Linked DNA regions of Homo sapiens: region 1 is linked to region 2. Evidence: fine-mapped expression QTL. A gene starts in region 2. The other region holds a variant in brackets. All regions are shown on one strand. Distances are between the middles of the regions.

Evidence for each region. PIP is the estimated chance that this variant, and not a neighbour inherited with it, causes the effect.
Region 1: its variant is the best candidate, but not a certain one, in a credible set for the expression of AP2B1 in whole blood (TOPMed, PIP 0.65).

The regions. Positions count from the first base shown.
Region 1 is chr17:35,551,187-35,554,102 of GRCh38, reverse strand. It overlaps SLFN14 (schlafen family member 14), which reads left to right. Exons shown (of 6, transcript NM_001129820.2): 5 at 659-1,373. It overlaps LOC107985033 (a long non-coding RNA gene), which reads right to left and starts at 898. Exons shown (of 2, transcript NR_138032.1): 1 at 612-898. The variant T/C (reference allele first, on the strand shown) is at 1,797.
Region 2 is chr17:35,585,872-35,588,787 of GRCh38, reverse strand. It overlaps AP2B1 (adaptor related protein complex 2 subunit beta 1), which reads right to left and starts at 1,466. Exons shown (of 22, transcript NM_001030006.2): 1 at 1,360-1,466. RefSeq lists enhancers at 950-1,059, 321-1,520, 1,490-1,659 and a silencer at 1,290-1,409.

The sequences.
Region 1 (2,916 bases), 35 kb after region 2:
AAAGCAGGGTTTCTCAACCTTAGCACTATTGTCATTTGAGTCAGATAACTCTTTGCTGGGGGAGGGAGAGCCCTGTGAATTGTAGAATACTTAGCAGCATTCCTATCTGGTACCTACTACATACCAGTAGCTCCCCTCCAATTGTGACAATAAAAAATTCTCAGGCCGGGCATGGTGGCTCATGCCTGTAATCCCAGCACTTTGGGAGGCCAAGGCGGGTGACCTCAACTGAGGTCAGGAGTTTGAGACCAGCCTAGCCAACATGGTGAAACGCTGTCTCTACTAAAAATACAAAAATTAGCCAGGTGTGGTGGCATGTGACTGTAATCTCAGCTACTCCAGAGGCTGAGGCAGAAGAATCACTGGAACCAGGGAGGCAGAGGCTGCAGTGAGCCAAGATCACACCACTGCACTCCAGTCTGGGTGACAGCGAGACTCCGTCTCACAAAAAAAGAAAAAATTTTCCAGACATTGCCAAATGTCCGTGGGGATGGGGGAGAGTTGGGGAGTAAAACTGCTCCTGATTAAGAATCACAATTCTAAAGGAAAGCTCTTATTTTCCCAAATGCACCAGGTATCATTTTTTTCTGCAACGTTGCAGGAATACTTACCACATGCTTTTGTAAGTTTTGGTAACATCTATTCCTTGAATTTTCAGTGACACAGGAAGAGGTACAATTTAAACCAGAATCCCTCTGTAAGAAGCTGTTCTCAGATCATAAAGAACTGGAGGGTTTAATGAAGACCCTGATACATCCTTGTTCTCAGGGGATTGTGATATTTTCTAGAAGCTGGGCTGGTGATGTTGGCTTCAGGAAAGAACAGAATGTCCTGTGTGATGCTCTCCTGATAGCAGTTAACAGCCCCGTGGTACTCTATACAATCTTAATAGACCCCAATTGGCCTGGAGGACTTGAATATGCCCGAAACACAGCTCATCAGTTAAAGCAGAAACTGCAAACTGTTGGTGGTTACACAGGGAAAGTGTGCATCATTCCAAGGCTGATACACCTGAGCAGCACACAGAGTAGACCTGGTGAGATCCCCCTGCGTTACCCCAGGTCCTACAGGCTTGCTGATGAGGAGGAAATGGAAGACTTGCTGCAGGCTCTGGTGGTGGTCTCCCTGTCCTCCAGATCTCTTCTGAGTGACCAGATGGGCTGTGAATTTTTCAACTTGCTCATAATGGAGCAGAGCCAGTTGCTTTCTGAGAGTCTTCAGAAGACACGTGAATTATTCATCTACTGCTTTCCAGGAGTCAGGAAGACAGCCCTAGCCATAAAGATCATGGAGAAAATTAAGGACTTGTTTCACTGCAAACCAAAAGAGATCCTCTATGTTTGTGAAAGCGACTCCCTAAAGGATTTTGTGACGTAAGAGTTTTACCAACTACACACACACAAAAATATGTATGTGTATATATATATGTGTATATATATGTGTATATATATGTGTATATATATATGTATATATATGTGTATATATATACACATATATATATATTCTTTTTGCAGTTGCAAGATTTAATAGAGTGAAAACAGAGCTCCCATACAAAGGGAGGGGACCCAAAGAGGGTAGCCGTTGCCAGCTTGAATGCCTGGGTTTATATCCCGATCATTGTCCCTCCTGCTGTGCTCTCAGGCAATAGATGATTGGCTATTTCTTTACCTCTTGTTTTTGCCTAATTAGCATTTTAGTGAGCTCTCTTTCTTATCTGATTGGTCGGGTGTGAGCTAAGTTGCAAGCCCCATGTTTAAAGGTGGAAGTGGTCACCTTCCCAGCTAGGCTTAGGGATT[T/C]TTAGTCAGCCTAGGAAATCCAGCTAGTCCTGTCTCTCAGTGCCCCCCTCAACAGGAAAACCCAAGTGCTATTGGGGAAGTTGGCCGACCACCGCTCTAACTGCTTCCTGCTGAATTGGGGCGTAGTAGGGGTTCTGCAGTTGAGATTTCCTCGGGAGGGGTGCCTTTGATGTCATTAACATTGGAGCATGGGCTAGCAGGCCGGTCCAGGGGTCCGTGGTAGATTTTACTCATGGATTGCATCTGGGGCTCCATTTGAAGAACCATTTGTAGCTTTGCAGCTTCGATTCTGGAAGAGACAAACTTAACAAGGAGGTTAAAGATACAGGGTCCAATTAACAAGGAGGTTAAAGATACAGGGTCCAAAGAGGAGTAACAATATTATAGCTGCTAGAGGTCCTAAGAAGGGGAGAATCCGGGGCATCCATTGGCTGAGGAGGCCCCAGGGGCCAGTGTTTTGAAGCTCCTCTGCTCTACGTTGTATTCGATCTCGAATTTCTTTAACTTTTTGGTGACGATTCCGGATTGATTAACATAATAACAGCATTCTTCCCCTAAAAATAAACAGGTTCCCCCTCTTTCGGCGGCTAGCAAGTCTAAAGCTCTTCTATTTTGAACGACTACTGCTGCTAGGGAGTTAAGTTGATCTTGCAAGGTGACCAGGGAGTCAGAGACCCGTTCCATGTCACCATTTAGTTCTTGAGATAGTTTGTAGTAGAACTGAATAGAGGTTGTGATACCGCCAGTGCCAGTACCTACTCCACCTAGCACTCCTGCTCCGATAACAAAAGGAAGAATGGGTACCCTTTTGTTGCGGGGCTTAGGTACGACATGATTGTATAAATCTTGTTCAGTGTAGATGGTCATAGGGGGCGCTAAGAATGAGAGGAAGCATATAGATTCTGAAGAGCCATTCAAACAACGATAGGCTGAGGTACCACAGACAAAAAATATTCCTGAGGGTAGGCAGACTATTCGTGTGGGAAGAGTTACCCACCTGATGTGCTGGGAGTTGGTTGCACACACACACAAAAATATATTTAGTCAGTCTTTTCAAGAGTGTCACAAAAGTGATTTGTGTTTTTAGTTTAAGTTTTTGCAGTGCCTTAGTTGCATAAGT
Region 2 (2,916 bases):
CCTTTCTGCTTCCTTGAAAGTTTCAACGGCTAAGATACTGCAAACAGTTCTCACCTTACCAGCACGCTTAGTCATCACTGGAATGTCTTAACACGTTTTCTTATAGAGCTGCACCTCCTTCATCTGCTGCTTTCTATTACTACTTTGTAAGTGTACCCTGAGGCTAAGCAATTGAAGTATACAAGGAAGGTAACTAATCATTTAAATTGATTCTCATTGAGACCACCTTCTTTCTTAGTCATTCTGCCTTTCTAAGCTTAATGCATTTACTTTCTTTTAAACCACAATGGTTATGATAAGTCTTTGGCAGTTTTCAAAACATTTTTTCTTCTCAAAAGTCAAGTTTGGCTGGGCGCGCTGGCTCACGCCTGTAATCACAAAACTTTAGGAGGCCGAAGCGGGAGGATCGCTTGGGCCCAGGAGTTCGAGACCAGACTGGGCTACACAGTAAGACCCTGTCACTAAAAATACAAAAATAAAATAAAATAAAAGTCAAAAGTTTAATGAAGCATCCGCGTGAGTTCAATAAAGGCCTGTCCCCCCCCACCCCACCCCTCCAATAGAAGACTACTCTTGAAAACAAGCAGCATGAACAAATGATTTGGATTCAAATGATAAGGAAATAACAGGACGTTCCAGTTTCTTTACTTTCAGCTTAATCTACAGCCTTTCCCAAACCAGACCATTACTGCAGAGCCCAGAAAAAGAAAAAAAAAAAAAAGATGCTGGGTTAAGATTTGCCCCCATTTGCTTCCCCCTCTCTTACATCGGGTCAATTCTGGAGGTTACTCTTTCCTTCCTCCAAGAGTAAGGAATGCCTCTTCTTTCCCCAGGTGGTCAAGATTCTAGCGATATGCTCCTCCATTACGGAGCAGGGAAGAGGTTGTCTCTTACCCTCAAGTTACCCGAGAGACGACGTTCGCCCATCAATGAGCAAACCTTTGAGGGAATCCCTTTTCCCTTTGGCTTGCTGGACACGTCTCAGCCTCTCAGTGAACGACGCCGAGCGGGGAAGAAAGACGGTTCCCCCCACGGCCTCCAGGCTCTATCAGCCACACCCCTGGCCTCTGGTCCCCCTAAACCCTCAATTCCGAAACACATCTTCCCCTCCTGCCCCCAACTACCTGCTGCCACACCCGAGGATTCCCTCACCGCACCACAGGCATCATGGTAGAGACCCTTTCTCCAACCTTTTCCCTCTCAATGGTCACACCCGACGGTTCCCTGCATCATCAACGGTCACGCTCTTAGGATTTCCTCGCCTCCGCCGGTCTCCGACCCAGCCTGGTGTTACCCTTCTCTCCGTCCCCGACCCCGTCAATTAGGGACACACCCTAAAGGCAACCGCCCTGAACTCACCGGAGGCGGAGGCGAAGGCGAGGGCGGGGGTGGCGGCGGGAGCCGGAGAGCACAGCCCAGGTGGTGGTGTAATGGTTTCCTGCCCGTCACGATTCTTTTCTAGGTCTAAGCCACTGCGCAAAACCCACTTTGCCAGGGACAAAGATGGTGGGCAGGAAACTCTGACGTCAGAGAACGTCGCCGCGTGACGTCATCGGGGTGCGCGGTAGACCTAGAAAGCCTGTGATCTCTTGTCGCCTTCCAGACCCAAAGATTTCCTTTGGTCCCGGCAAGCTAGCCCATCTGGGCCTCAGAGGATGTTAAGTGGCTACTCCAAAGGGATATATTTTAAAAAGCTGACAATGGATTTGTTTCCTCGCACAGAAATTCTCTGAAAAACGTAAACATAGAGATGATGAAATATCCTGTTCCTTTCTGAAAAAACAAAACCCCTCAGCTCATTTTCCTTCCAGGCTCAAGGGCGGACAATGGTGATATAGCCCAGGCCTATATACGGGCAGTGGGGCTAGAGGATAGTGCTGCACGTAAAAGAGGTTGAGGAGGCATTGGATGTGAGTTTGAATCCCTACCCTGAATGTGACTGAGACAGTTAATGTCTCATCAACCTTCTTATCTGTGAAATGAAGACAATGATAGTATCTCTCTCGGGCATGTGAAGTTTAAACCAGATAAATTAGGTAAAGTGCCTAGTATATAATAGGTGTGCTTACACAAAAGTAAGTTTCTTTCGGACACTAAGAGCTAGATTCCAGGACCTGGAACTGGAGAACAAGATTGATGATGTTAAATGAACTAGCTGTCCCTAAGGTTAATTTCAGGGTGTAAGGAAGGATGGAGAGCAAAGTGATGATTTTTCTCACATTTTGCCTATGAACTCTGTGAGTCAAAAAGTGTTTCAGTATTTTAAAACTTCATTCTTAAAAAAGTGATCAGAAGTACATTAAAATTTTGTATAACATACTCATGTATTATTATTTCCTCTGTTATTAAAATAGGGGAATAGGGGAAATTAGAAAGCCAGGTATAAGGTGAGAGAATGCAAACAGTTATGGTAAATCAGATAGCTGCATAATGTTATAGAATATTTTATGACAGAAAATTCATAAAGTGTTAAGCAAAAAAAGGACACCAAACAATACAGTATACAGTATGACTATATATGTATAGAAAAAAAAGGCTAGGATAGGCCAGGCGTGGTGGCTTACACCTGCAATCCCAGCCCTTTAGGAGGCTGAGGTGGGTGGATCACCTGATGTCGGGAGTTTGAGACCAGCCTGGCCAATGTGGTGAAACCCTGTCTCTACTGAAAAAACAAAAATTAGCTGGGGGTGGTGGCACACGCCTATAATCCCGGCTACTCAGGCGGCTGAGGCAGGAGAATGGCTTGATCCCAGGAGGTAGAGGTTGCAATGAGCCCAGATCTCGCCACTGCACTCCAGCCTGAGTAACAAAGCCAGACTCATCTCAAAAGAAAAAAAAAAAAAAAAAGCTTGGATATTCAGCAGAACGTTAAAAGTGGTTATTGCAGGATAGTGAGAGTTTTATTTTTCTTCCTAA